Regions from separate parts of the Homo sapiens genome. Here all the other regions are linked to region 1. Evidence: fine-mapped expression QTL. A gene starts in region 1. Each other region holds a variant in brackets. All regions are shown on one strand. Distances are from middle to middle.

Region 1 (5,076 bases):
GTTTCTTCCTCTTTTCTCTTAAAAGCAACCCTACATACCCATCACCCTGGCCAGAACCAATCTGTAATGTTGCTCCAGACTTTCAGGAAAGTATTTTCTATGGCCTCCCCGCAATAGGCGTCATTCAAGACCTGTACATGATCCCTGCTCAAGTGTGGAATTCCTTCACAGAAGGCAAGTTCCTCCTCTACTAGATGATATGGTGGTAAAAGGATGCACTGGGTCAGGGGGAGCGGCGGTTGGAAACACTTGGATTCAAACCTGGCTCTACCATTTATTAGCTATGTGACCTTGAGGAACTTCCTTAGCTTCCTCTCAACCACAATTTCCTCACCTGTACAATGAGGATAATACTACCTCTCATAAATGTGTTGTGAAAGGTTGAATGATACACTGTGTGTAAACCTCCAGGCAGGAGATCCCCATTCCCAAATTTTCAGGCCAGCATTCAAGGCCTTACTATCATCCATCCCAGGCCTGTCTTCCTCATGGCCCTGTTAGACTCTATACTCTGGCCTTAGGCTCCAGGAGTTTTAGAGGAACCTACATAGGTACATAGGTACATTGTACATAGGTAGACAACTGCAGGCTCAAAGTGTCATTACAGATTTGAGCTTCTCCCGGCTTGTGAATCTAGTCTTCCTCTGTAAAAAATAAATAAATAAATAAATAAATAACTTATTTTCCTCTTTTTCTAGCCATTTTTGGCGTTTCAGGCTGGATGGTGGGTTTTCTCTTTGGCCTTTCAACTCAGAGCCACGTGGTTTCTCCTGAATAAACAGAAAGGAATCTCTTGAATCTCAGTTGTGACAGTTGGTTGCAGCAGTCATTTTAATGCCCACTTGGAGAAGCCAAAGGACACCCATACTCAGGCACAGTCGATGGAGGGCAAGTCCTGGTTCAGCACCTGGCACCTGGTACCTGTGTACCTGGCAAATACAGTCGAGGGAACAGCATTTCAGGCCCTTGTCAGGGAGGACCTCCCAGGATGACACTGAGGAGGCCCCTGAAATGATCCACAGCCAGGTCCTGGCATCCCCCTCTTTTCCCACCCACAGTATCCCTGGAGGCACTGAACAAGCTCTGAATCATCAGAGCTTTGTGTCTGGAGTCCCCTATTCAAAGGGGCGCAGGTCTTTTCATTTCCTAGCATCCCATGTGCTCGGAACTAGAGCCAAGAGATCTGAATAGAAAGTAGATGGAGAGCAGCTGAGGATGAGAGGGAAGAACCCCTGAGAACTTTTTGAAGTCAGCTTTCCCCTCCGTCATTTGCTTGTGACAGACAGCTCCTGGGGCGCAGTTTTCCTTAGCGCCTCCAGGCAGCAGAGACAAAGACTCTTCTGAGATGTCACCTGCACCCCTTGGAGCAACCGGCGTTGGCTAGAGGGGACTGTCATGCTCATTTGTCCCGATAAGACATCGGAGCCTTCACCCAACCTGCCGCATGGTATCCCTCTCCAACGCCTCCCACCCCTTCCAGGAAGGCCCTCTATTTAGGCAGCTGTTTTCCCTGAAGCCGGGTTTGCCCGGAGTTCTGTGTCCCATTCCTGGAACACTGGTGCGTCTGTGAGAGACACCGGGGCTGGCTCCGCAGCCGCTGTGTCCTGAAGGAGGCGTGTTCCGGGACTGAGGGGGCAAGGACACGTAATGGCGGGGGGCGGGGAGTGGGGAGCCACCGGCGGGAAGACGGGGAGGGAGGGCGCGTCTGGGGCGTGTGCGCCCAAGGCCAGAGGCACCCGAGGTGGGCTGGCCCAGGGTGGAAAGCCTGGGCCGAGCCCCTGGAGCGGGCGGAACGGCGAGCCAGATTCAGGAAGTTGTGCCTGTGACATCAGGGGCAGGACAGAGTTGGAGCGAAACCTCAACTATGCCAGGCGTCGGCCCGTAGGAAGGCAGGGAACACAGAGGGCGCTGCCCTCGGCGGCAGCGGCAGGTACGCGCGGGGGTGGAGCGGGGCGGGGCGGGGCGGGGCGGGCGGCTCCCACGACCTTGGCCGGCGCCGGGGCCCTACACGCCAGACCTGGCTCGGGGTGGGAGTGCAGAGGCAACCAAAAAGGAACCCACACCTCCCTCCAGGGCCCGGGGCGCTGTCAGACGGGGCAGCAACCAGGAGATTCCCTGGGCCTGCAGGAAGCCCTTCCGCGGACCGAAAGGTGAGTTTCAGGACTTTCTGTTATGTTTTTTAAAAATACATTTTTAAGCGCCCTCTGTTTGGAAGAAGACGCCCAGTCACTCCTGTCTTTAGAAGGATGAGACCTGCCCCAGAGATACAAGGAATTATTCCTAAGTAGCCTCTTGCGCCTTCACAACTTTAGTTCTGGTGTGTTTCCCTCCTTCGCGAGGACTCTCAGGAGTCTTCCTCTCTGCGCCTGGGCTGAGTCCACATGAACTCCTCGGAGGTCGGCGGTGGAGTTACCTTACTCCAGCTGCCGGTAGGAGCGCTTTGAAGGGGACACATGGAAATTCTGTTTTTTACTGAGAAAGCTAAGGCCTGAGACCCTCCGGAAAGCATCGCGGGCTTAGGTGTTTCTAAACCATTCTAGGTGAAGCCAGATTTTCTCTGGAGCTAAGGAACTAGCCAAAACGAAAATATGGCGTGGAGCCAGGGGCGGAGAGGAAACCTGTTTGCTATTCTGAGAGTTTCCAGGGAGCTTGCTGTGACACAGATTACTTCCTAACTTCTTTGACTCTCAGTGGTCCCACCCCCAGACCCCCCATCCCACCCATGAAGGTAGAGTGGGGGACATAATAGGACCTGTTTCCCTAACATTCTGAAGAGCTTTACGGGATTCATCATATGATAATAGAGTTAAGTAAACTATAGATGATAGCTAGTGGGAAGACCAGTCCTGCCTAACCGAAAGGGAAACTGAAGCACAGACAAGCACTCACCCTAATTTAACAGAACACCGGCAGCCAGCATGCCATGCTACTTAGCGGGATTGTGCCACCGATTGCGTTATACGAGGAAGGGAAGGAAAAGACCACTGGAGCATCTTGGAAGCTCCTCCCTTCTAAAGCAGTTGCATTTCATTTGCTCAGCTACAGCTCATAAGGACCTGAAGCTAATTTTAAGGAACCCTCATTCTGAAGTTCTGTTAGATAATGGGAGAGCCTTGAGTTACAAAGAGCAGGACTTAAACATAGCATTGATGCAACCTGTTCCTAACCCTTTTGCAAATGGTTTGCAAGTTCTATCTAAAGACTTCTGCAAGCGTCTTACCAGCCTTTAAACTGGTTCAGTTGCATCAACCACTTAGTCTGATGTGCCTGCCCTTCACCCAGTGCTGGGCTGGAGAGGCAGCTGTACAGGAAAATCTGACCAAGTCTTTCCTTTTGTCTGAAATTCTGCCTCTCTGTCCCCATCCCAGATACAATTTTAGGAAAGAGATGCGTTGTAAAACAAAAGTTTCTTTGGCCTCCATGCATTGTCAATATTTGGCCTGTGAAATGAGTATGACTTCTGTCCTCTTCCCTAAAGACTAAACCCAAGAGAATAATAAACACTCAACAAACTAAGTTATTGATTTCACCAAAGAGGGAGATGCATCCATTCCATACATTCATTCAACATTTGCCAAACCTACCGTGTGCAGGCCAGTATACCAGGGCCTTGGAGTCCAAAGATAATGAGATGGTTTCTGTTTTTGAGGAGCTTCAGTCTGGTAAGTGAGACAGATACAGAAATAAACTGCAGTTCAGGATAATATACATTGTAATAGCAGTAGCTACAGGGCACTGACTAATCCAGGGGAGAGGGCAGGAGATCCTTCCCCAGAATTATCTGTGAAGTCCACACCACAGAAGTGATGGATGAGCAGGGTCTTGGAAATGACTAGGAGTTCCTAGGGAAAGTGTGTTTTGAACAAAGGAAAGAGGGTATGCAAAGTCAATGGCAGGTAGGGAATAGCGTGTAATAGGAATTACACTGCTAGACTGAGAAGGGTGAACTCCCTCCTATAGGAAGCCATTTTTGAGTTTTTAAGCAGAGGAAGGATCCGGTCAGATTTGTGTTTGGAAAAAGAATTATTGGCCAGATGGGGGCTGGCTTAGAGAGATGGGAAGCAGAGATAATTAAGACCTCAGCTAAGACAATGGCAGTGGGAACTGAGGAAAAGGAATGGATTTTAGGAAGTAGAATCAGAAGTACTTGGTGACCAAGTGAATGTGGTAAAGGAGGAATGAGTGAATAGAGAGTGATTATAAGGTGTTGAGTGGGATAGGCAGGGGAAGGTACCTTGTAGAGCCATTAATAAAAATCATGTAAGCTAGAGAAGGAGTGGGCTTGGGAAGCAGATTGTGGAGAAGGCAGTGATGAACACTTTAGGCATATTAAAGTTGAATATGCCCAGGAAATGTCCAGATGGAGATAAGCAGTTGGGTATACAGGTCTGGAACATAGGTGGAGGTGGAAGGCAGCTAAAGAGGCCTGTGGTAGCACCACATTGGTGCTGAAGAGTCTTGTATTTGTCAATAGTGGCCTATAGATATTTTCATATCATATGTTGACTTCCAGATGACTTTCTCCGAACGCTCAAGGCTTTCTCAGGATACCTTGGAGGATAATTCCTAAAATAAAGAAGAGAATTCTGGGTTCATGGCACATAGATAGTAAAGATGCATTTAATTATCACTCCTCCATGTGAAAAATTAATACTTAGTTCAGTTGTAAGATCTGTGAAGACCTTTCCAGAACTCACACTCCAAGTCTTTAGTTACCTACCCCTGTGTGGGAGAGTCCTGACTTCATAAAAACAAGAAGGATGACCTACTCTGACTAATTTCAGACCCCTACAGAGTAGTTATTTAGGTCTGGCTGCCAGTGCTCGGCTCAGGATCTTGTGTGACCTGCATGGAAGAAAAAACCTTGAGCTTGGAGCTAGAGATACATGGGTTCAGTTCCTGGCTTAACTGCTTATTAGCTGACCTTGAACAAGTTCTTGAAAGCTTCATTTCCCTTATATTTAAAATGGGGATAATTATTACTCACCAGGGCAATGGTTAGAATCAGAATCAAATTGAAAAGGAAAGTACATTTAATGTGCTACATAAATTGTAAGACTCTATAAAAATGTAAGG
Region 2 (5,076 bases), 41 kb before region 1:
AGCATTTCACATTTCTAAAAGTGTGTTCAAAGTTTCCTGAATTTTTTTATTGTTTTTTCTTTAAGCTATCTATTCCCTTGAATATTTCTCCCTTCAATTCTTGTATCATTTTTTGGGTTTCCTTGCTTTGGGCTTCACCTTTCTCTGGTCTCTCCCTGATTAGCTTAATAACTAAACTCCTGAATTCTTTTTCAGGTAAATCAGGTATTTCTTCTTGGTTTGGATTCATTGCTGGTGAAGTAGTGTGATTTGAGGGGCATGTTGATGAGCCTTGTTTTGTCATATTACCAGGATTGGTTTTCTGGTTCCTTCCCATTTGGGTAGACTGTGTCAGAAGGAAGGTCTAGGGCTGAAGGCTGTTGTTCAGATTTTTTTGTCCCACGAGGTGCTCTCTTGAAGTAGTACTCTCCCCCTTTTCCTGCAGTTGTGGCTTCCTGTGAGCCAAACTGCAGTGATTGTTGCCTCTCTTCTGGGTCTAGCCACCCGGCAAGTCTACCCAGCTCCAGGCTGGTACTGGGGATTTCTGCACAGAGCCCTGTGATGTGAACCATCTATGGGTCTCTCAGCTGTGGATACCAGTGCCTGTTCCAGTGGAGGTGGCAGAGGGTGTTAGTGGACTCTGTGAAGGTTCTTAGCTTTGGTGGTTTAATGCTCTATTTTTGTGCTGGTTGGCCTTCTGTCAGGAGGTGGCATTTTGCAGAGGGCATCAGCTGTAGTAGTGTGGAGAGGGACTGGCAGTAGGCGGGGCCCAAGAACTCCCAAGATTATAGGTCCTTTGTCTTCCTCTACCAGGATAGGTAGGGAAGGACCATCAGGTGCGTGCAGGGGTAGGTGTGTCTGATCTCAGACTCTTCTAGGACAGGCCTTGCTGCAGCTACTGTGGGGGATGGAATGAGATTCCCAGGTCACTAGAGTTTTGTACCTAGGAGGATTATTGCTGCCTCTGCTGAGTCATGCAGGTTTTCATGGAAGTGGGGGAAGGCCAGCAGTCACAGGCCTCACCCAGCTCCCACACAAACCAAAGGGCTGGTCTCACTCCCAACATGCCCCCCACCACAGCCTCGAATCTGTTTCCAGGCAGAGGGCACACTTGAAAACTTGCCCCAGACTTTCTGCCTCCCATTTGTGAAAGAAAAGGGCTTTAGTTCTTCCTCAGTCTGTGAAGTCTGCAAGCAGGATTTGCACCCTCCCCCAAGTTCTGGCCAGATTGTTACAAAGTTCAGCTAGGGAAGTCCTTCTCCTTGTGAGGTTTTACCCCCTGCCCTTCTGGCCTCCCTCCTGATGGATCCCTGTAGTGTCAGGCAGGAATGGGCTGCTTGGGGATTCAGTGAGCTCTCAGGGCCTCCCTGCTGCCTCCTCCACCCCTGTATTTTGCTAGGCTCAGCTCTCTAACTTGACTCAGTTCCAAGTAAAGTCAGGGACATCTCCTGCAAACAGACCTTCAAATTCTCCAGTGGGTGTGTGTGTGTTTGGGAGAGGAGGGTCTCCCTTTCCCACTTCTGCAGTTGGGGCACTCACAGTATTTGGGGTCTCTCCCAAGTCCTGCAGTAGCAGTCCGCTTCCTTCAGAGGGTCTGTGGGTCCTCTCAGGATTGCTGGTTTGTTCTTGCAGTCGATCTGGAGCTAAAATGTACAATGCAAGCCTCCGCATGCTGCTGTCTCCGGAGCTGCAATCTAGTCCTACCTCCCGTCTGCCATGATCTTCTCAAGTCCTCATTAATAACTATAACTTGACCATTTTGATGGAATGATGGAACCAGAAGCCAAATTCAGTGAATTGAGAAGAAATGGGAAGTGAAGAAGTAGAGATGAGAATTACAATGGACTCCAAAAAATTTGTATGACAAGGGGAGAAGAGAGGTTTGTTGAGAACTAGAAGATGTGATTCAAGGGAAGCTTTTAACATTGGAGAACATAAGTAAGTCAACAGACTTAGAGAAGGAAAGGTAGAAGATACAGGATGGAAGGGGGATGAATGATGTAAAAAGTCCTTTTAAAAAACAATAAGCAACAGGATTAAGAGCACAGGTGAAGAGATTGACCTTTAAAAGAGGAGAGTGACTTTAGGGACTGGAAAAAAGGGGCAGTGTAATATTTAGAATGATTTTGCTTGCAAGCAATAGAAAATCCAACCAACCACATAAAGTTTAAAGAATAAGACAACTTTATTATTTTATTTATCAAAAAGTCAAAGAGTGGGAGGGTTACAGGTAGGGTTGGCTAATTTGATGGCTTAACAATATCATCAAGGACTCAGTTTCTTTCCTTGTTTCTATCCAGCACTCTCAACACATCAGCTACTCCCGTCATGGTAAACAGACCACTGCAGTAGCTCCAGTCTACATTCAGAACAAAACAGGGATAAAGAGCTCTTTTTTGGGCTCCATTTTTTGAGAGAGAAAAACACTCCCAGCATCCCTCAACAGACTTCCATTCAATGGCCAGAATTTTTTCACATGTCTAAACCAAGTGCTGGCAAGGGAAATGAAGTAATCATAGTTTTGGGCTAGGCTAATTATGATCAATCCACTGGGGCTAGGCAAGAGACTGGTCTCCCTGAAGAACATGAGTACCAGATACCTAAACCAAATCAAGGTTCTGTTATCAAGGAAAAAGGGTGGGCATAACTATGGGTAAATATCTATCACAGTTGAGGTAAATGTGGAAAAGTTTATATTCAGGGGTAGAAATTATGCTTAATTTCATTGATTTTTCTTGATTTTCTGCTGAGAGTGAAGAAATAGGGGTTGAGTATGAGGATTGAAAAAATGAAGATATGAAAGTCATTGAAGGAAATGAGAGAAAGTGTTAATTAAAGATGAAAGATTGAGAGGCAGGGCTAAGGGACAAGCTAAAATGGGAGACCATGAAATTTTTAGCACATCAACGCCAACCCGTACGACTACACAATTATTTTTCCAGTATATTCCTCTCTCTCTTCACAGGTACAGAACAAAGGAGACAGGGAGTAATAGTACTATTGATTCTAGTTTGGAATTTTACTAGGTG[G/T]TATAACAGAAGCAAAAGGATGAAAAAGAATCAAAGATGCTTGCAGAAGAGTGATTCAGATATCTGTATAACCCATGGGATCTAGGTTGCATACAGAAAAAAAGTAGTCAGAAAGGTGTTAATAAAATGTGAGGAAAATGGAGTGATCAAGGGACAGGAAGTGCATATGAGGTCAAAGTGTAATGGAAGAATATTTTAAGGACTGGACATTGGGATCAGACGGCAGGATCCTGGAGTACTGCCCAAGCAGACGTTGGTTGATGAGGAAAGAAATATAATACACTTGAGTCAACAATGTCTAGCAGTTTGGAGACTGGGTTGTTGGATTGTCTGACAAATGTTAAAATATCCTGGGACTGTGTCCAAAATAAATGGGGACAATGACTGACAGACATCCCAAAATCATCAATTAAGGAAGGGAACTGTGATAGTTAATACTGAGTGTGAACTTGATTGGACTGAAGGATACAAAGTATTGATCCTGGGTGTGTCTGTGAGGGTGTTGCCAAAAGATATTAACATTCATGTCAGTGGGCTACGGAAGGCAGACCCACCCTTAATCTGGTGGGCCCAATCTAATCAGCTGCCAGCAAATATAAAGTAGACAGAAAAACGTGAAAAGGAGAGACAGGCCTAGCCTCCCAGCCTACATCTTTCTCTGTGCTGGATGCTTCCTGCCCTCGAACATTGGACTCCAGGTTCTTCAGTTTTGGGACTTGGACTGGCTCTCCTTGCTCCTCAGCTTACAGACGGCCTATTGTGGGTCCTTGTTCCTCAGCTTGCAGACAGCCTATTGTGGGACCTTGTGATCGTGTAAGTTAATACTTAATAAACTCCCATATATGTATATAGATGTACATGTACATGTGTATGTATATGTGTGTATGTGTATATATATACACATATATGTATATATACATATGTGTGTATATACACACATGTATATATACATATATGTGTATATATACACATATGTATATATACACATACATGTATATATACATGTGTGTGTATATATACACATACATGTATATATACATGTGTGTATATATACACATACATGTGTATATACATGTGTGTATATACACATACATGTGTATATATACATGTGTGTATATACACATACATGTATATATACATGTGTGTATATACACATACATATATACGTGTGTATATATACACATACATATATATACATGTGTGTATATATACATGTGTGTATATATACATACATGTATATATGTGTATATACATACATATATGTGTATATATACATACATATATGTATATACATACATACATATATGTATACATACATATATGTGTATATACATACATATATGTGTATATATACACGCATATATGTGTATGTACATACATATATGTGTGTATACATACATACATATATGTGTATACATACATACATGTGTGTATACATATATGTGTATACATACATACATGTGTGTATACATACATATATGTGTATACATACATATGTGTGTATACATACATATGTGTGTATACATACATATGTGTGTATACATACATATATGTGTATATATACACAAACACACACACATATACATACACATGTATATGTGTGTGTGTATATATATGTGTGTGAATATGTGTGTTTATATAGGGAAGTTCATTATATATACTCTATTATACATATATGTGTGTGTGTATATATATATAAAGGGGAGTTTATTAAGTATATATATATATATATATATATATATATATATATATATATATGTCCTATTAGTTCTGTCCCTCTAAAAAAACCCTGACTAATACAGGAACTAACCAGGACATAGGCTGATGTCAGTGACCAGGAGGAAAGAACACGATATGAGTGAGTGATAAGACTTAGAAGAAAAAAAAGCTTCCATCAGAAGATTAATGAGTGCTGATCTGGAGGTGGAGGTGTGAGTTAGGAAAACAGCAACTTTTTCAGGGGTGGAGGATGCATGGAATGTACAATGAGTAGCCTCTATTGGTGGAGGCTGCAGAGGAAGTCGGGTCTTCAAGAAGATCTAGGTCTCAATTAAGAAAAAGGGGTTGT
Region 3 (5,076 bases), 63 kb after region 1:
ATCAGGCAGCCTTAATTGACTCACTCAGAGTCTAATCCACTCCCATTCTATGAGATGAAAACACCCTATAATGAACTATTTGGGTATCACAAAACCCCCTTACCAAATAAGTTTCAAAGGGAGAAAAACAAACAAACAAAAGAAACCTCTTTGTGTCTGGTTCTATACTAGAGTTGTCATTGCATTCTAGAACTTACTCAATGCCCTGAATGACTAAATACAGAGAAAAAAAGTCAAACTTGCATTGAAATGTCTGTGGAAAGAGCCTCTAATGCATTAAGACTTTCAAGATGGAAAACAAAGATGGAAATATTTGAAACATTAAGTGTTCCCTGATGTTCTTTCCAGCCTCCCACCAGCGGCAGAGTTTACCTCAGGGCACAGTTCTTCTGGCCTATTCTTCAGATTGAGTTCCTGTTGCTTGGGATGGAAGAATTACCATAAAAGGATTTTGAAAGCTCAATAAAACAGAGAAACAGACCATGGGTCATCCTTCAGTGACAAAGGACTCTTGAACCCCCCCAAAAAAACTGTAACAACTGTCAGTAAAATGTTTTGTGGGGAAGTTTTCAGGACTCCATGTTTTCTGGAGCATGGTGGCTTTAAGTAAAACCCTGCAGAACCTCAGTTCATGCATGACCCCCAGGAGTCTGGCTCAGAAAACAAGACTTGGGGTGGGGTTGGGGCTGGGGAGGGTGAGAATGCACAGTGGTTTTATTATTTTTGGAACCGATCTCTGTGTTTGAGGAGGGGTCATTTGCATGAGCAGGATGTAAATGGCAAGCTCCTTGGGGGCAGGGATTTCTGTTGGTTTGGTTCACTGCTGGATCTTGAGTACATGAAGCAGTGCCGACACATAGTAGGCACTCAATAAATATATGTGCAATAAGTCATGACTATTCCAGGGCAGACAGACTGACAGATCTCTTTCTAAATGTTGCCCCAGATAACTCCTTCTGTGTGGGAGCTTGGCTTACAAAAAGGCCACACTAGACAATACAAACGTCCTGCCAAAAGTCAATTACAGGCACAAAGGCAGGAAATTGGGCTGCAGGCCTGAAGGGACAGAATGCTTAGCCTTACAATGGTGCTGATGAAAAGCAGCAGGTACAGCCCTATGGGTCTGGTCAGGTGGAAGACCTCCCATGTTACATTCTGCTCTGTTGTTTTTATAAATCAATCGGGAATTTCCCCCAGCCAATCCAATTACTGCCTTTCAACCGTCAGATGTCGCTGTGCAGATAATAAGTTTTCTTCATTGCTGCTCATCAGATGGTATCTTTTTATTCATGGCTGCTCAAGTGTCTTTGGTTTCCCAGGCCCCTGAGTGAATGTGTAAATGAATAAGGTTTGAGCACTATGAGATCATGCTCTCTCTTTCCCACAGTGAGTTGCGGATGCACAGCAGGTTAAGGCTGCATGCTGGCTTGGAGCAGTGAGAGTCTTTATCATTCAGGCACAGGGAGAAAAGGGGCAAGGGGAGATGGAAGGATCAGATTGCAACCCTCAAAAACAGCTTATCATATAATTGGATCAGGCTGATGCAATCAAAGAAGCTGCCATGTGGTTTAGGCAGACAATGGCCCAAGAGAATAAAACATCTACACAGAAGAGGGACAATTAGAGCATTGCCCAAGTTTCCGTCTTTCAGACTTTAGTCTTTCCAATCAAAACCTCAAAGGCCTTGTTGCTGTACTGTGGAGACAGGGTACAGAACTTGGACAATGGACTCCAGTTCAGAGGTCTGAACTCCCCAGTCAGGCTATGCATTCGCATCTTGGATGACCTGAGATGAACTCACTGAGAAGACCAATGATTAGGAGGCTGGAGTTTTGAAATCTGGTCCCAGCTTTGTCATTCTTGTATGACTTAGGCCAGGCACTTCTTTCTGTGGGACTCACTGTCCCTATCTGTAAAATAAGAAAAACAATCCTCTCTCACTTACTCTAAAGCTGTTGTGTGAGGGTCATGTGTACAGAAGTGCTTTGAAGAAGGTAAAATATAGGTAATACATACATATAAGGCATTACTAGATGATGATCAACTCACAAGCCTTCATAGTCATCAGCCTTAGTCTAACCAAGCCTGTTCTAGGACAGTGGTTAAGTACTAGGCTCTATCCTTACAGTTGATTGGTGTCAGAGGCATTTGAACCAGAGCCATCTTGAGTGAGTGCTAAGACAATGAGGCTGGGACTTGCTGGGCTGCATTCCCAGAAAGTTAGGTATTCCTAGCCTCCAGATGTTTATGGTTAAGGGAACAGATTGACAGTGTTTACTAAACAGACCCAGACTTAGGAATGTCCTGATATCTTGAGAACAGAAGCACTCCTAATGTTGCTTTAAATATAATAATATTGATTCTCGCAAAATATAGTAATTAAGAAAATTAATCCTTTATCACGAACCATTGTAATAGAGCACATCCCCTCATGATCTTTTTTTATCCTATATATAAACAAGTCTTGTACATAGGGTGCATGCATTCCTCCTTACTTTCAGAAACGCCCTACTCTGTCTATGGAGTAGCTGTACTTTCACCACTTTACTTTCTTAATAAACTTGCTTTTGCTTTGCATTGTGGACTCACCCTGAATTCTTTCTTACATGAGATCCAAGAACCTTCTCTTGGGATCTGGATGGGGACCCCTTTCCTGTAACATTGGGATCTCTCTAAAAACAGCTACAAGCCACCAAAACTCCTCTCTTCCATGGGTGGAGAAGAAATAGGGCTCCAAACACTCTATGGAGCATCCATGAC[C/T]GGCATCCTGGGCTGAGAAGGAAGGCCCTACACAGAGCTCCCCAGGGTTCTGCGTGACTCACAATCCAGCCACCTCCGTCCGTTTCCATGTCACAGTACACCTGCAGGGGCCGGCTGGCATCGCCATGCAGGTAGATGGTGTACAGACCACTGGCGGCATTGCTGTTCTGCTGAACCTGACTGCAGTCCGAAGGGTGTGGGAAACGGGCACCAACTGGGAGCCAAGCAGAGAGAGTGTTGTTAGGACAAGGGCAAGGAGGAAAGAGGTGGAGTTTCTTCCTATTTTAAGGCAATTTATTTTGTTTGGAAATTATTTCATAACTTCCTACTTCAGCTTCTTCCAACTCTTCACTCATATCTTATTTTTCTCATCAACTCCCCAAATGCACCAGGAAAAGGTCAAGTTCACATCACTTCCTCCCCCAACTCAGCTCCCTCACAAAGTAACACTCTATTTCACTCCTCTCTTTAGCCTCCCCACTGTGGGGTGGATTTCTTTTGAACACACAACCCCATTTCCACTTCCCCATGCCTAGAGAAATCAATAGTTCTGCATCCACTTGCTCCTCCCTGGACTCCTTTGCTAGGCTTTCCGGTGCTGGTTCTCATTGCACGGTCGTTCAGAGTACAGGATTCCATATTACCTGTGGAGAGGGTGGTGGATACATTTCTGCTCCGGCGACCACCCTTAAAGGCAACAAGGGAGACAGGGTAGGTGGCGCCTTGCTCAAGGCCTTGCAACGCAAACCTCTGGTCTTCCCGTCCCAGCTGCATCTCCTACCAAACAAGGGAGAGATTAGACAGCCAGTGACTCAGTTTATCACCCACTAGCACCCTAGGTGTCAACAGCGTTCCCTGGTGCTAATGACAGAAGCTCTCTGAGAGCACAGTGTTTTGTCTCTCCGAAGCCTCAGTGGCAGCCCAGAATCGCAGTGGGTCCCAGCCACTTCTCTGGAGAGCCATGCCATGGAGAGTCAGCACTACTGGGAGCATCAGCTGAGAACCAGCACCCAGGACTGCAGCTTCAGGATCACCGGCCAAGTTTCTGGGAGACTTTGGCCTTCAGATACACACAGGGGCTCTAACTATAGTGGCTACATTGCCAGCAGGAACAGGCTGGCAATGCCGCGCTAAGGAGAAATTAATAGGGGAGGTGAAACTGGCCACTGATATCTGAGACAAGGAGATAGTTGATATTTCAATAAACTTCCTTCTGAACCAGTCTTACTTCCTCTATAAACATAGGGCTAACCTTCCTAGCTGTGCTGTCATAAGCACTAATTAAGGTAACACATAAACCTAAGTGTCCTTCCTGTTTTTATTTCCTCCCTTCTTTCTTCATTGGCAAGGAGGGAGAATAATAATTTTCCATTGGGACAGGTTTTGAAAATTTGCTGGCCTTCAGATTCTAAGGGGAGGTATAACCCTTGAAATAAGGGTTAATCAATTTGTTCAATAAATATATATCGAACACCTACCATGTGCTAAGCACTGTCCTATGCACTTTAGATATGGTGATAAATGAAACAGACAAACATAGAGCTTACATTTATTGGGGAAGACTAACAATAAACAAAATAACCCGGGGCAGATGTACAACCAGCAATGTGATCAGTAAAGATCAGCAAGTTGCCGTGAGGCCAGCAAATGAGCTGATTGGCCCAAGTTAGTTGCTTCACACAGAAGAGAAGGCACCAGGAGAAAAGACAAGGAATCCCCGTACCTTAACTGTGCCATCTGGGAACTGGTAAGTCAGAATGTAGCCGTGGATCTGAGCAGAGGGGGGCGTCCAGGTCAATATGCCACCAGACTGCGTTACAGCAGATGGACGAAGGTTTCTGGGAGGGTCGAGTTCTGTACGTAGAAAGTCAGGTAATTGTTATTACTAAGATACAACTGAGGCAAGGTAATTTTTGAGACATCAGTTTATATTTTCCCCTTTTCAAACCCTCCCATTTCTCCTCCTTCTTTCAAGCAGTTTGCAGGCTCTCTTCCTCCCTGCCACAGGGCCTTTCTGACCTTTGTTTCTACAAGTACAGACCCATTAGAGACAAGAAGAACAGGGCGTTGGGTGGGTCCCAGAGGAAAGGAATCTGGGCCCCCATTTCCCAGGCAGGTTCCCACAAAGTGGTGGATATTAACAGCCTAGATTGGCAGATAGATCCTCAGAGATGGCAGGGCTCCCAAAAGGATGTGGAAAGATAAGAGGGCCACAGATCTGAAAGGGCCATGCACAAAGAAACCAGGGTGACTTGGCCCGCCTGGAAAGTTGCCTGAAATGCTGGATGGGCCCCAATGCCTGTCACTGGGAAACTA
Region 4 (5,076 bases), 34 kb after region 1:
CAGACCCAGGCATGCCTCCCACCTGTCTCTGGCATACCCCACATGCAAAGCACAAAGAACATTTATCCATACATCTCAATATGGTTCCCAAGTGTGTGCACATGCACGTAACACACACACACACAAATTCAGGTAGCAGGTACGTGGGCAAGTATATTCTGCTCATCAAATGGTCATTGGCTATGTACTTTGTGCAGGGAAGTACATTATCTACAGTCACAAAAATGTCTCATGGGAAAGCCTTGCCAGATTCAGACACATATATACAATTTCCTAACCAGCAAGGCCCCCATACACCATCTATTCCATAAACCACTCAGGTTACAGATGCATGCTTTCCTATTTCTAACTCTACACATAAACTTTTACTGGAAGTACTCATAATTGGACATTCCAGCAACCTGCTACAGTCCCCACCCTTGTGTGTCTTGATACAGACACACCAAGTTTCTGTGCCTCTGACCCCTCACCTGTGCCAAGATGTTTAAAGTGTGATGGTTCAAAATTCATTGAAAGCTCTTTTCTTGTAACTCATGACAAAGTCCGTCCTCATTGCCACTGAGAGGTGTTTAATGTGATCCAAGACCTCTCTGTGAAACATTACCCCCGCAAACCACTCAGCAAAGTGCCTTTCTCCAAGCAAGAACAAAGAGCTCTTGGTGGTGACTGCTAGAAAATTATGGAAGCCCACTCATTTATGTCAGTGGACTGCAACTGTGTACCTGTGCAATGTTTACAGATGGAAAGGGTGAGGAGATGCTACACCTGAGCTAGGTATCTCCTATATAACCAAAGTTTCCAGCAGGGAAGGAACTAGACAATCATCAGTGCAGTCTCACAGAAGGCAACACTGGAAGTGATGTCATAAGGTTGTGATGTGTGCACGGTATGGCACAGGTGGGATGCAGAGGTAACAGAGTTTAAATGAAAGTAGGATGAAGCTATAAAGAGGTTTATTTATATTTATATTGAAGCTCAGGCAAGTGCCTTGCACACAGTAGGTACTTATAACTAACTGTGGTTACTGTTGGATATGTGATGTTGTTAAGGGTAAGCTTGTAATACCTCACCAGTTCTCCCCGAGTGATCTTCTCTTCTAAGTGAGCCCACTAATTGCTGCAATGGATGAAATTGGGTGTTTAATGCTGGAGAGCACATGTAGGTGACACATGTGCCTTGAGGTATGTGAGGACATGTAAATTAGATCCACAGTGAGCTGAGGAGGGCTTTCCCCGCCAGAGTGAGGTTGGGAAGCAGAGTTAATCCACTTATAGGATGAACTGCTTGGTATTTTTATTGTATTGTGACTGTATTACAAAGATGGACAATTCACTCCTTGGGAGCAAGTTATGCTCTAGAAGTTTATTTACAAATATGCTGGGCAGCTCTCTTGAAATATTTTCCCAAGGAAGCTATTCTACACAGTGGCAAAATTGCTATCTAATTAATAATGTAGCTAAACTATGATATTTATAGTAGCAAAAAACTAAATTCTATAAGATTGCATTAAAGGAAAGATATATTCTATTTGCTCACTTGGGCTGCTTGGTACTCACCTGCCCTCCAGGTGTACTTTAGGCCTGTGGAGGGTGGGCATTTAGTGGTGACCCTTGCACCAGGGTTTTCTAACAGATGACCCTGTGAATCATAATTTAAACCTGCATATATTTTATAGCCAGTCACATTTGCCCTCTCACCCTATATGGCCATAAACTGCCTAAGCACTCAGGCCTCCCACTCATCAACCCCTTTGACCAGAGAAAGAAGCACTCTGGTTCTCTATCCCCTTGTCACATAGAGAGTTTGTCATGGGGCCTCTGGCTGTGCCCTTCACATAACAGAATGACTTGCCATCTGCCTGCACCAAACCCAGGGATGTGGAAGACATCTCCCCACAACTGCCACTGCTCACCAGGACAAGCTGCCCTTCCTGTCTCCACCTCTCAGTCCCCCTAGAATGGATGGCTGGGGAGAGGTGGAGGCTGACAGCTGAGACGTAGTGTCAGATATGATCTAGGAGGGCGGATCACCGGGATCCGGGACCATACAAGTAACATGGTTTCCATGGCAACTGCTTGCTCCTTTGAATTAAGACAGCAGTCAGTTGTCATTGCCATGACAAGGCCTCTATCTCCAGGCACAATGTCCCTGCTGTCTCCTAATCCAATGGACTTGCTCTCACCCCAGGGATGAAACACCCAGAAACTCACTTCTCAGTCACTTCCACAGCCGATGACTCAGAAGAGCCAAACCCAGAATGGGGCCTCTCTTTTCCCCATCACAGACTCCCCTGACAACCTTTCCTGGCGTAACTAGAGGAGTCCCAGTGCAGGATAGGCCCTAAACGTTTTGTTAAATAAACAGGTGCATGAAAGGAGCCTAAGGCCATTGTTGATATCCACTCTCTTCTTTCCACTTCCTTCTCATCTTTTTCTCCATGTTTTATGCTTCTCTGATTCCCTCTTCTGCCTGCACCAGACCAGCCCCAGCCCTTTATTCCTCTCCATTTTCACTCCTTCCAGCCTCTGTCCCTGAACTGCCACTGGCAACCCATGGGACCTCAGGACCAGAGACTGCTTGACTCATCTGGGGAGGGTAAGTTCACGGGGGACAAAAAAATGATTCCTAAAGAAGAGGCTTCCTAGACCAGCACAGGCTCGAGAAAGACATCCCCTAGGCCTGGACTTCTGAGCAGCTTTAGCCAGGCTCCGGACGGCAGCCAGAGGAGGCCTTTCCCCATTGCTCCTTTCCCCATTGCTCAATGGATTCCATGTTTCTTTTTCTTGGGGGGAGCAGGGAGGGAGAAAGGTAGAAAAATGGCAGCCACCTTTCCAAGAAAAATATAAAGGGTCCAAGCTGTATAGTATTTGTCAGTATTTTTTTCTGTAAAATTCAAACACACACAAAAGAAAAATTTATTTAAATAAAATACTTTGAAAATGAAAAGTCTTGATGTAGTCAGATGGTTACT[C/T]TCTTAACATTAGGTATTACCCCCACTCAGACATCACTCAGAAATGATCAATGCAGGGACTCTTTCTGTGACACAAATGTCCCAGCCCTCCCTGGTCACCGCCTTCGCCATGGTAGAGTCATAGGTCTGAGGATGAGGAATGTGGCTGTCTCACCCTTGCTTGCAAAACAGATGGCCTTGGAGACCAGACTCCCTCAAAGGTGCCAGCTACAGGAAAAATATACTGATGTTCCTTGGCAACACTTACAGAACTTTCCATCAATGAGGTCCATCAATGGCTTCTTAAAGGAAAAGGGGGGAAATAGCAAAAACCTAAGGAAGAATGGACCTTTGAGTTAAATCCAGTGTTTGTTGGGAAAGGAGGGATCAAAAACCTCTATAGTAGCCACTAGGGCAAAAACTGTGTGTATGTGTGTGTGTAAGTGTGTGTACACTGTTCAATATGGTTCAATATGGTACCAATAGCCACATGTGACTATTTAAATTCATTGCAATGAAATAAAATTAAAGGTATACTAGCTCAGCTATGTCTGCCATATTTCTTTTTTCTTTTTTTTTTTTTTTTTTTTTTGAGATGGAGTCTTGCTCTGTCATCCAGGCTGGAATACAGTGGTATGATCTTGGCTCACTGCAACTTACACCTCCCGAGTTCAAGTAATTCTCATGCTTCAGCCACCTGAGTAGCTGGGATGACAGGCATGTGCCACCATGCCCAGCTAATTTTTTTTATATTTTAGTAAAGATGGGGTTTCACCATACTGGCCAGGCTGGTCTTGAACTCCTGGCCTCAAGTGACCCGCCAGCTTCCCAAAGTGCTGGGATTATAGGCATGGGCAACTGCGCTTGGCCATGCCAGCCACGATTCAAGTGCTCAGTAGCTACACGTGGCTAGCGGCTGCCATCCTGGACAGCATAGGTCTATGATCTTGGGGGCAGGGTCAGACACCTGGGAAAAACAGCCATGCTGACTGGATTTCAAGGAGGGCTTAAGAAGGAAGGCCTAGAGCACAGGTGGACTCTTTGCCTTATCTCGCCCAAGGCAGGTTATGTCTGTAGTTCAGATGAGTTCATTCCTGGGCTCCCTTCCCCATCACCACACACTCATGACAACCAGAGAACAGAGACTCTTCATTCAGCTCCTTGTTCATCCACCCAGGACATTGCTAAACATTCTGGTGCAGAGGAGGAACTGATGCTCAGAAACCATCTGGGAGGGGAGCAGCTGCTGCACCCCTGAGGGGATGCCAGTGCTCAATGCCTGCAGCCGCACCTGCCCCGGCTCCATCCTGGCCTTGGGGTATAATATGGATTTGGACAATGAATGCCATCACGTCCTTAGCATTCTCAGTTTATCACAGCACTCTGCACTGGCCCCTTGCCCGTTGACCTTAGTAGTATTTCCCAATTCAAAGTCACAGGTTTACTGGACTGGAAAAAAATCCCTTCAACCCGCTTTCTGTCTTAGACTCAAAGGGTTGTTTTCAAACACCTGTGTGGGCAATGTCACACTATATTTCTTCAGGAATGGCTGTGACTGTGTACCTCCAGCCCTCTTTTGAGGCTGTTCATCCCATTAACATTTCTGACTGTTTACTATATGCCAAGCACGCTAGGTGCCAGTGATACTAAGTTGTCCTAGAGGGGCTCAGAACCTGGTAGGGGGGCACAGACAAGCAAACCATGACAAGACAGTGTGGCCATTGCTTCCTTAGAGGGAAGCTCCCAGGCTGGCTTCAGGACAGGCCGGGGGAGATCGCCTAGGAGGTGTCTAGAGACTTGCACAGGAAGAAACTGAGAAAGGAGGGCCCCAGCTGCACAGTCTACAAAGGCAAGTGCACCCTGGAGTAGTGATGCAGGCAGACAGGATGATGGGGACGATTCAGAAACCATCAGGGCTCTCTGGAAGCCATAAGTGCAGTGAGCTAGGACTCATGACTAGGGTTGTCCCAACCCTGATGCTAACTCCGACTCTCACTAGTTATGTAATTTGGACCCATGGCTTAATCTCTCTGTAAGACTTACCTGCTAAATAAAGCTAATGAGAGTAGCTACCTCATAGGGAGCATTAAATGATCGTGTGTACAAAGCATTTAGCACAGGACGTG
Region 5 (5,076 bases), 120 kb before region 1:
TTGGAAAAGCAAGAGATGATTAAAGAAGTCAATGTGGAACGGCCTGCCCTCCTATCCTCCCCAACCCCCAACCAGTACCATTTAAAGAAATTGAGACATATTCACATAAATCTGGTTTTATCTTTCAACGAAATGACCTAATGTTAACTCGGTTTGAAATGTCCACGCTACAAAGCAGTGTTTCAATACAGCAGTACTATTGACATTTTGGTCAGATAATTCTTTGTTTTAGGGACCTGCCCTGTGCTTTTACCCACTAAATTCCAGTAGGACCCCCGCCTCCCACCATGTTGTAACAACCAAAAATGTCTCCAGACATTGCCAAATGTCCTCTGGGGGAAAAAAAATCACCCTCAGTTGAGAGCCACTGTTACAGGGAGATTTATCACAGAAAGAAGAGATAACTTCAATCCAGACTTCATGGAAGCAAATTTCAAAAAGCTTCAGGCTGGTTCATTTCAGCCCAAAAGACAAAAGGATCGCCCAAATGGAACATTGTTATAGCTTTTCTATTGAATTTGTCTTTATATAGTTTATAAATGTTTGAAAAGCTTATATCTGTGTTTTATTTTAGTTTCATTTTGTCGGAATTACTCTGGGTATTTTTGTGGTATGAGATTAGATTCCAAGGTAGAAAGTGGAATTGATAAAATGACACTTACAGAAAATGAGAGTTTGTCTTACAATGGTTCAGTTTGTCATGGCTCCCTAGGAATCATTTAGATTTCAAACCAAGAGTCACTTGTAAATTAGACCTTTGGCTCTGTTGCTTCACCTGATGGACAATAATAAATGGTATCGATTGTTTAAGATCCCCAAATACCTCACAATCTCATATGTCCTAAAGGTTTCTTAAGAAGAAAGAAATACAGGGTAATTAGGCACTAAAGATAGAAGGAAGAGAAGATTTTGTGCCACAATTCTACCTAAGAATGATATTCAGGTCCAGGATTGCAGTCAACAGAGCAAGGAAGGGCAGTATCACCACCCAAGCTCCCCAGGAGAATGTGAATATCTAAGTCGCATGCCTAAGGGAGTGTTCCATGATGTTAGGGAAAGCAAAGGGCTAACCAGCTGTAGTCTCAGCTTGTGGCAGAGGAAAACACCCTCAGCTAAACCCCTTTACCCAATTCATCCTCCCAGATAAGAAATCCAGTACACAGAAAGGAAGCGACTAGGGGCAGGGGAGGGTGGGGGCAGATGTTCACCTCTAGCTTTTTCAGAGATGTTTCAATGCTGATTTTTCTTTCCAATTGTCCTGGCCATGACTGTTGGGCTACATGGTCCAGTTTTGTTTTAAACAAATGTAGTCACCACAGTAGGTCTCTGTAATGGCATGTTAGTTGTGAAGGTCACCTGGGATCGGGTCAACATGTGAATGTGACTGGCATCAATGGTCCTCACATCTACTTCTCTTGGCCAGACAGACAGATCAGTTCAGTCTCTCAAGAAACGCTGATAAAGTCCCTTCCTGCAAGGGTGGACCTTACCACAGAGCTCACAGCAAAGAAGGACAATTCGAAGTTCACCTCTTGGTGCTAAAGGAGGTATGCTGCTCTCCGTCATGATCCTGTTTATCACAGGGTCTTCTTTCAGATCGAGAGCCAGTGAAGCATCCCCAAACAGGTCTCTCCTATTAGAGCCTGGCTGCAACCCACTACCAGATTTGCAGAACCATTTATTTCTCTTCCAAGACAAAAACACCCTGAGGAGGAAAGACCTCCAGCTTGGCGGAGTAAAGGGTTTATTTTCTTTCCAAAGGGCTGGAGAGGATTGGGAAGCAATTGGGAAAGCACCGGTGAGAAGAGAATTCCCATCATCTGTGAACTCTTTAAGGGAAGAGCCTTGGCTTTCCATTTCTATTTCCAGTATTTAGCCCAGAACTCTCTTTGGACTCAGTATAGAATTGATGTAAACTGAATTGAATCAACCGTATCTTCCGTCTATGAAAGAAACTCAATTAACAGCTTTTAGTACTGTAAAATTTAGGACAGATCCATAAAATATTCAAGAAGAGCAAATATTAAGATTATCTGAGGAGCAGAGGAAAGAACATTGTATTTGAC[G/A]TCAAAAGACCTATATAGTTGCATAAGTTTGTTCTCACACTGCTATGAGGAAATACCTGAGACTGGGTAATTTATAAAGGAAACAGGTTTAATTGACTCAGTTCCGCATTGCTAGGGAGGCCTCAGGAAACTTACGATCATGATGGAAGGCAAAGGAGAAGCAAGCACCTTCTTCACAGGGCGGAAGGACAGAGTGAGTGAAAGCAAAGGAAATGCTAGACATAAAACCATCCGATCTTGTGAGAACTCACTCACTATCACAAAAACAGCATGAGGGAGACTCCCCCGTGATCCAATTACCTCCACCTGGTTCTGCCCTTTACACGTGGGGATGATGAGGATTACAATTCAAGGTAAGATTTGGGTGCAGATACAGAGTCACACCATATCAGTAGTCAACCTCTTTCTGCCTCTTACTGGTAGTGTGCCCTAGGATAAGTCCTTCTGTCACTCAGGAGCTTAGTGTCCGTATATCTGTAAAATGGGATTAAGAATAATGTCCTTCCTACTTCACAGACTATTGTGAAGGGCAAACTATAAAATGGGCAGAAAAATGCTTTACAGCAGATGTTCTTACAACTTGAGAATGTGTTAACTTGGTAGAAGTTAAAAGGTGTTGAAAAGCAGCCTTATTATCTTCATAACAGTGTTATGGCCTGAAATTTCACTCACCTGGTTCTCCAAAACAACTTATTGCCTTAAAGAAATGCTCTGGGCAAAATAAGAGCATCAACCTGCTATCAAGGGTCAGCTGATAGACACCTGAGAGCAGAAAGGGGACAAGGGTGGGGTTGGAGCCGAAGGGAACAGAGGACGCAGGAGTGGGACAAAACCTCCACATCTGAGGCCAGCCCCACAACGACTCTGCTGGGGAAGAATGGTGAAGAAGACCAGGCTGTGTGCAAAAGCCAGCCCGGTATGTTTCAGAGCCACAAGCTCTCTAAGGACAGTAGTCAGGTTCCGGTCCATTCCTCCACCACCTGTGCTGCCCCAGGCCCTCAGCAGCCATTACAAACAGGTAGTTAATGGCAATCCTTCAGATGTGTGGGTTGAGGGCACCTCACTATGAGCCCTTGTATTTTTCAAAACTCTTCCCAGGAGACCACGACACTAGTTGAGAGGCCTGCTGGGTTCTCGAGTTAGCCCAGCAAAGGGCATGCTTTACTAGTATAGATGATAACTTCTAGGAGGGGGCTTTTGAGTAGCTCCTAAGGATTGTGGATTTCTGTTGTGTTGAGTGGGCTGCCTGGGACCCAAGGGACAGAGAGGCAGAGCACTGCCATCAGCACCTTCCTCATATCCCCCTTGTAACTACAGTCTTAGCCCCAGTTCTACATAGATATGAAACAAATGTTTAAAGAGTTTTCATTTGAAAAGGCAGCCATTATTCTAAATACCCACATTTCTCCACCCGGCTTTGCCCCCAAACTTTGCACAATAGCCCCACATAGGAAGGAATATCTGCTTCTGCCCCTTAGAACAAATCCAAAACTTCCCACTGACAGAAGTGTGGGCTATCAGAGAAGGTCCCCCACTCCACCCCACTGACTGTGAGCTAGGAGCTGGGAACTCTCTGTCCCCCAGCCTCACCCCGGCGGCCTGGGATTGGGGGAACAGCCTGTCACATCCTAGCCCTGATTCTGCCTGGCAATATAAAAGAGCAAAAGGCTCATAGCCACCTTGAAAATCATTCACCTCTCCCAGCTCCCAACCTATAAAAAGAAAAGGAACAGAAACTATCACATTCACACTCACTCCTGCTTGCACCCAGGTGGTACAGACAACTTGGCAGTTCGTTGAATTTGTTGCTCTCACTCTGGAGGTGTTGTGTGGGCTGTGACAGATGTGCTGGGGCAGCGGGGCCTCTCTGCTGCAGTTTCTCCATCAAGGCATGATATTTACACACTGAAAGCAAGACAGCACCTCCTCACACATAGTAAGGCACACACTGCCGAAGAGAGCCCTGGCAGGTCCTAACAGGTGACCATGTCCTTCAATGCATCTCCACTGAGCCACCTAAGTACTCCTGACCTAGGGCCTTTGTTTACTGTACCATTCACTTGTTCATTCATGCATGCAAGCATTCATTCATTCAATAAAGATTCCAGAACACACTCTGCCTCTTACTGGTTGTGTGCCCTGGGGTAAGTCCTTTTGTCACTTTGAAGCTCAGTGTCCTTATCTGTAAAATGGTATAAAGAATAACTGCCTTTCCAAGTGAAGGTGAGGAGCAGGCCATGATGAAGAACCAGAGTGGCTGAAGCACAGATGGGTGGGGATGGGTAACACAGGTGCAGCTGGGAAGGACGGCAGGACCTAATCAGACAGGGCCCTGCAAGCCATGCTTGAATCTTCATCGATTATAAGAGTGGTGGGGCTGGGCACGATGGCTCATGCCTGTAATCCAAGCACTTTGGGAGGCCGAGGCAGGTGGATCACAAGGTCAGGAGATCGAGACCACCCTGGCCAACATGGTGAAACCCTGTCTGTACTAAAATACAAAAAATTAGCCAGGCATGGGGGCACACACCTGTAATCCCAGCTACTCAGGAGGCTGAGGCACAGGAATTGCTTGAACCCGGGAGGCGAAGGTTGCAGTGAGCTGAGATTGCACCACTGCATTCCAGCCTGACGACAGAGTGAGACTCCATCTCAAACAAACAAACAAAAAAAAATAGTGGTGGGAAGCCATCGGAGGTGCCCAAGCAGGAGAGTGAGATGATCATGTTTGCATTTAAGAGAGTTGGCTGTGGCTATTGTGTAAATGGTGAAGGGGTACACAAGATTTGGGGGGAAATCAGGAATGGTTCAGATGAGAAATTAGGATAAGTTGAACTCAGGTGGTTTTAGTAGAGCTGGGAAAATATATATCCTCAAGAGATATTTAGGAATTAAATGGACAGAACCAAACATGTGGATGAGGAAGTTATAATGATGGTGTATAGAACTCTGGACAGCCTGACTGGGTAGGTGGTGGCTGCCCAGCTAAGGAAGAGACACTGGGTGAGAG
Region 6 (5,076 bases), 74 kb before region 1:
AAGGAGAAGAGTTGAGTAGTCAGCCAAAAAGAATGACAAATGTCCAGTTTCCCAAAATATTTTTTATCCTCCCCAACTTCCTTACTTCATATTCAGTTAGACTTTGCTCTCTCAACCTCCTACAACACATACATTCCACCTCCTCTGTCTAGTACAAATGTTAAGGCAAAATGAATTTTCAGAAACTAATCTACAAATAGCTGAGACTCTCCAGCAAACATTATAATAACATGTTATTTAATGAGCCAAGCTGCCTCAAACCTGTGGAGCTACCACTGCTGGCAATGGCTCAGGTTTGAAAGTTACAATCAAAACTTCACGTGTTTTTTTGGTTTTGTATGCCCACTTCACCACCCTTGCCCCAAGTAACCCTTCTAGGCATTAATATACATGTTTACATTTTTAAAGATAATTTTATTAGTTTTCTCACACTTAAATTAAAAATATGCCTCCTATCCTAACCTCCCCCCACCCCTACACACAGCTGGCTAGGTCAGTGTTGTGAAATTAGGCAACACTTTCTTCAAGAAATTCTTGGGATTCCTTGAGCATGTTTTAGGGAGCATCTTAACTGCCCAGAAATATTAAAGGACTCTAAAGTGGCTACCCAATAACAGCCCTGCTATGCCTAATGGCCAAGAACAAAACAAACATATAAGTGAGCTTAGTGGTAGAATAGGTCTGGGATTTGGAGGAGTGAATGTTCCAGGGGAGTGTGATGTGGAGTCTGACATCACCCAACCAAACTCCTCTTAGCTGAGCTGTCCACTCTGGGAAGGCATGGGCTGTAGGGCAAAGGAGAGACTGTGTCACTGAAGTTCAACAGCTGTGCTCTGCAAAACACTCCAGAAAGAGCTGATTAGCAGAGAAAGGCATTCCCCCATGGACGCAGAGGGAGAAGCATCCTAAAGCCATCAGGCCAGCTGGAAGAATACACAGCATCCCTGGCTGACCAATGGCTGTGGAAGTCAGAGCTGCTGGCAGAGGCTCTGCTGACAACTGTGAGAAACTGCTGGCCCCCCACAGATCCCAACCTAGCATAACCCCAGGAAACCAAGGGAACATTTGAGATGCACAAACATCTGTGAGAGCAGCCCCAGAAATATTTAGGAAGAGAAACTCCTGGAAGCAAAGGGATCTCTGCCTGTCAAGGATGTTTAGGCTCTGAGCATTGATATTTGGAGTATTACTGTAAATCTGATTTGACTTCATAGCCAAAGATAAGTAAGATCTGGGTCTTTCAGTTACAAGTGTTGAGGTTCCTTGTTTAAATTTTGATACACTCTTTGAGCACCCAGCAGCTCAGGAGTATCACCTTACCCATGCACCCCAGTTTATAATTCCTTTGTAGGAAGTATGCTATTTTGTAATACATATTTGGTCTTCATCCTATTTCCTGACATTCATCTCCTAAAACCCTTGGAAATCTCTGGTGTGATGAGTGTCTTTTGTATGCTGAGATGCCTGGTAGATGGGGGCACCTTGAGAGCTTCAGGATGGGGGTTAGTCACCCGAAAGACCATGGCCTAATTAGAAAGTTGGGTCCCCCTAATCTCTGGGAAGAGGAGGGAACACTGAAGGTTGAATTGGTGACCAATGGCCAATGATCTAATCAATCATGCCTACTTAATGAAACCTACATAAAAATCCAAAAGGACTGGTTTCAGAAATCTTCAGGATAGCTGAACACATGAAGCTTCTTGGAGGGTGGCACACCAAGAGACGGCCTGGGAGCAATGTTCAGTGCCCCTTCTTCTAAACTTTGCCCTGTGCATCTCTCTACTAGCTGTTTTTCTGTATCCCTTGTAATACTCTTTATAATAAATGGGTAACATAAGTAAAGTGTTTCCTTGAGTTCTGTGAGCCACTCTACCAACTCAAAGAGGGGATTATGGGAATCCCCATTGATAGCCAGGTGATTAGAAGCACAGACCATGCTAGTATCTCAAGGGTGGGGGCAGTCTTGTGGGACTGAGCCCTCAACCTGTGAGATCTGACGCTATCTCCAGGTAGATAATCAGAATTTAGTTAAACTGTAGGACACCCACCTGGGTTCTACTGGACAATCTACTACAGAATTGCTTCGTTGTATGTGCGGAGAAATCCCCACACATTTTGATAAACAGAGGTGCTGTGTTGTATTAAATGTGAGAGTGGACAGTAGGAAAAACAGTTTGTTTGTTTGTTTGTTT[G/TG]CTATCCTTTGAAGAGGGAGCTTTATAACAAACTCCAAAAACAAGCTTCAGATGGAGCCTCCAATTCACCCTCTATTTGCATATGAGGCACAGCTACACAATTTGAAAGCAGTCCTGTAGGTTGAGAGTTCACAACCCATACCACTTTGGAAAAACTGAGGTAACACTTAGATCAGATGGGGGACAACGTCAAGGCAAAACCATTAATACACTTCATAGGAGACCCCACCCCACTTTAGTCCTCCTGTGTATGGCTGATTTGGATAGAAGACCCTCCAGAAGAAGAAGGTCCTCTAGTCCTTTTTACCTTGTACCAGTGCTACTTGGGCTCATGAACCATCCCTTTGCTATAAACTTCTTGAGAGCATGATTCATATTTGCTCCATGTTTTATCTCTATAACTCCTAGGATACTGTAAATAAAATAGTCTTCCCTTCTCTGCAGTTTTGCTTTCCATGACTTTAGTATTACCTATGATCTGAAAATATTAAATGGAAAATCCCAGAAAATGACAATTCATAAGTTTTAAATCACGTGGCGTTCTGAGTAGAGGGATGGAATCTAGCCCTGTCTCCCTCCATCCCACCCAGGACATGAGTCCTCCCTTTGTCCAGTGTATCTACACTGTATATAGTACCTGACCATTAGTCCACTTAGTAGCCGTCTCAGTGATAAGATTAGCTATCTCAGTATCACAGTGCTTGTGTTTAGGTCATTCTTATTTTACTTATAATGGCCCCAAAGTGCAAGAGTAGTGATGCTGTCATATTGTTATAATTGTCCTATTTTATTATTGTTGTTGTTAATCTCTTACTGTGACTAATTTATAAATTTAACTTTATCATAGGCATGCATGTACAGGAAAATAAACATTGTATATATAAAAGTCTGTTCTATCCACAGTTTTAGGCATCCATTGGGAGCTTTGGGACTTATCCCTGGTGGATAAAGGGGAGACTACTGTATTTGAATAAATGAATAAATGATAAATAATGACAGATATTTGGAGTAGTAAGGTCATACCACCTGAAGTTTCAGTGACAGATGAATAGCACCTGTTCTATTACAGGGAAGCTCTTACTTTTCTAGCAGTAGTTCTTGGCCCATGTTGAGAGATTACTTAAACAACAAGGTAATACAACACACTCTTCCCCTGGTCAGTTTAGGACTCATCCCATGTCAGCTTTCACAAAAAAGAAAAAAAAACATAAAAATAACAATCTAAAGAATGCAATAATAAGATTGGCCAGGGTCCCTGAATCCCTAGAAATGTTCTCATAAAGTTGTTGTGGAAACCCAATGTTGTGTGTCTAAGTGGTCTCCTGGGTGAAAACACGGTTCCCTCCTAGATGTGACTTGGAATATGAATGAAATGTTAGCTTTGGTTCAGAGATGGGCATTAAGAAACAGCTAGTTTCGGCTGACTGATTGCTGGGTTCCAAGTACACTGAAATCTGGCTTCTGAATACCACCTACTCCAGTGAACTGCTTCAACTAAGGTCACTCACAACTTCCTTATAGGTAAAAATCAATAGCCCCCTTATAGTCCTTACTTCATGTAACTTCTCTGCATCTGTTGGCGCCTCCTATGTACCTTCTCTTTCAAAATCCCTTCTGTATCTTCTAGATGCCATGTTCTCGAGTATTTCTTATTACTCCTTAGTCTCTTTGTAGTTGCTTCTTGCCCTGCCCATCTCTAAACTGTTAGTGTCCCCTAGCAGTTATCCTTGGCCCTCTTCCAGTTTCATCTACTCCCCAGACAAGACAGACAATGAGTTCAAATCTCTATTTCCCACAGTACCGATCAGCCCTTCTCAGTTGCTTTTGCAAGGACATTAAGCTCTAGTGCCCTTAGGTATGACTTGTATATCATTAATGGACTTCTCTCCTATGTATTTAGAATGTGAGTAGTTATCAATCATTCTGGGAAATAATTGAGAAAAATAGTCATGCAAATAATTTTATGTAGGACTTAATTCCTTCCAAGAACCCTTCTTCAAGCTGATTGGCACTGGACCCATAAAGCCAACTGCCTAGCAGACATCTCCACTTGGTTGTTTCACAGATATCTCAAAACCCCCAATTCAACAATACATCTTATTACAGCCCTCATAATTCCTCTCCCCTGTGTTACCTATCTTGATAAAGACCATCACTATATTACTACTTCCTGATTTTTCCATTATTAGATGTAACCTATTGATTTTCTACTGTAGAAGATGAGGATAGGATGTTCTCTCTCACATACATCCCTGTTTCCAGCATACACTTTCCATCCCTCCACCCTACTTGTAATTTAGAATTTTGGTAGCATAAATATTACTTGCTTATATTATGATGACTATGTAAACATGTTTTGTAACTGAGCCATGTAATGTACTATAATGACTTTTCCTTTCTTGCAAAACTTTCTGGTTTCCTTGAAGTTAGTTGTCTTTTGTTTATTTGCTTAGATTTTTATGAATGCACCTTTAGTTTTTTCTGTATACTTACCAGTAATTCAGCTGATTGAAAGCTCTATGTCTAGGGGTAGACTCATGGTCTTCATTCACATTTCCACCAATTGTATAATCCCTCTTGGTATATTAGGTATCCTATCAATTTTCTATCAATTTCTGTTTCTTGAGGAAACCATCCTGAAGCCTTCTAACCAGCTCCATCCTGAGCTTCCAGCTGTCCAACTATATTACAAGACTGTTCATCTTGTTAAGTCTGCTCACCATCATTATGGGGATGCCACTCAACTCTCTCTGTTGTTTGATCCTTTGTTTCCTGGATTGCACAGTTTTCTCTTACATGGTATTACTCCCTCATTTTGGTGGATCACACCCTCCACTAGCTTCCTAATAAAAGATGTATGTTAGCAGATTTTTAAAATGTTTCA

Alleles and levels. Positions count from the first base shown, and alleles are read on the strand shown. Sizes are in standard deviations (SD) of each study's normalised expression. Not every link is listed here.
In carriers of allele G in region 2, the expression in skeletal muscle of the gene that starts at base 2,014 in region 1 tends to be higher than with T alone (moderate effect, 0.60 SD a copy in FUSION).
For the expression in neutrophils of the gene that starts at base 2,014 in region 1, allele C in region 4 goes with a higher level than allele T (moderate effect, 0.70 SD a copy in CEDAR).
For the expression in visceral fat of the gene that starts at base 2,014 in region 1, TG is the high allele of the variant in region 6 and G is the other (small effect, 0.16 SD a copy in GTEx).

The links.
Region 2: its variant is fine-mapped to the expression of KIAA0040 in skeletal muscle (FUSION, PIP 0.95).
Region 3: its variant is fine-mapped to the expression of KIAA0040 in whole blood (TOPMed, PIP above 0.99).
Region 4: its variant is fine-mapped to the expression of KIAA0040 in neutrophils (CEDAR, PIP 0.94). The same link has a PIP of 0.9 or more in aorta.
Region 5: its variant is fine-mapped to the expression of KIAA0040 in whole blood (INTERVAL, PIP 0.92).
Region 6: its variant is fine-mapped to the expression of KIAA0040 in visceral fat (GTEx, PIP 0.91).

Annotation. Positions count from the first base shown.
Region 1 is chr1:175,189,714-175,194,789 of GRCh38, reverse strand. It overlaps KIAA0040, which reads left to right and starts at 2,014. Exons shown (of 4, transcript NM_014656.3): 1 at 2,014-2,150. RefSeq lists enhancers at 1,352-1,461, 2,182-2,331, 2,572-2,621, 2,762-2,811.
Region 2 is chr1:175,230,699-175,235,774 of GRCh38, reverse strand. No RefSeq gene overlaps it. Among named protein-coding and RNA genes, the nearest start is that of KIAA0040, 40 kb to the right of the region's middle. The variant G/T (reference allele first, on the strand shown) is at 3,009.
Region 3 is chr1:175,126,493-175,131,568 of GRCh38, reverse strand. It overlaps TNN (tenascin N), which reads right to left. Exons shown (of 19, transcript NM_022093.2): 13 at 4,484-4,614; 14 at 3,405-3,537; 15 at 2,823-2,974. Among named protein-coding and RNA genes, the nearest start is that of TNN, 61 kb to the right of the region's middle. RefSeq lists enhancers at 478-1,384, 1,385-2,293. The variant C/T (reference allele first, on the strand shown) is at 2,761.
Region 4 is chr1:175,155,404-175,160,479 of GRCh38, reverse strand. KIAA0040 reads left to right here. Exons shown (of 4, transcript NM_014656.3): 4 at 1-3,494. Among named protein-coding and RNA genes, the nearest start is that of KIAA0040, 35 kb to the left of the region's middle. The variant C/T (reference allele first, on the strand shown) is at 2,972.
Region 5 is chr1:175,306,158-175,311,233 of GRCh38, reverse strand. All of the region lies in intron 1 of LOC105371623 (a long non-coding RNA gene), which reads right to left. Among named protein-coding and RNA genes, the nearest start is that of KIAA0040, 120 kb to the right of the region's middle. The variant G/A (reference allele first, on the strand shown) is at 2,067.
Region 6 is chr1:175,263,687-175,268,762 of GRCh38, reverse strand. No RefSeq gene overlaps it. Among named protein-coding and RNA genes, the nearest start is that of KIAA0040, 73 kb to the right of the region's middle. The variant G/TG (reference allele first, on the strand shown) is at 2,193.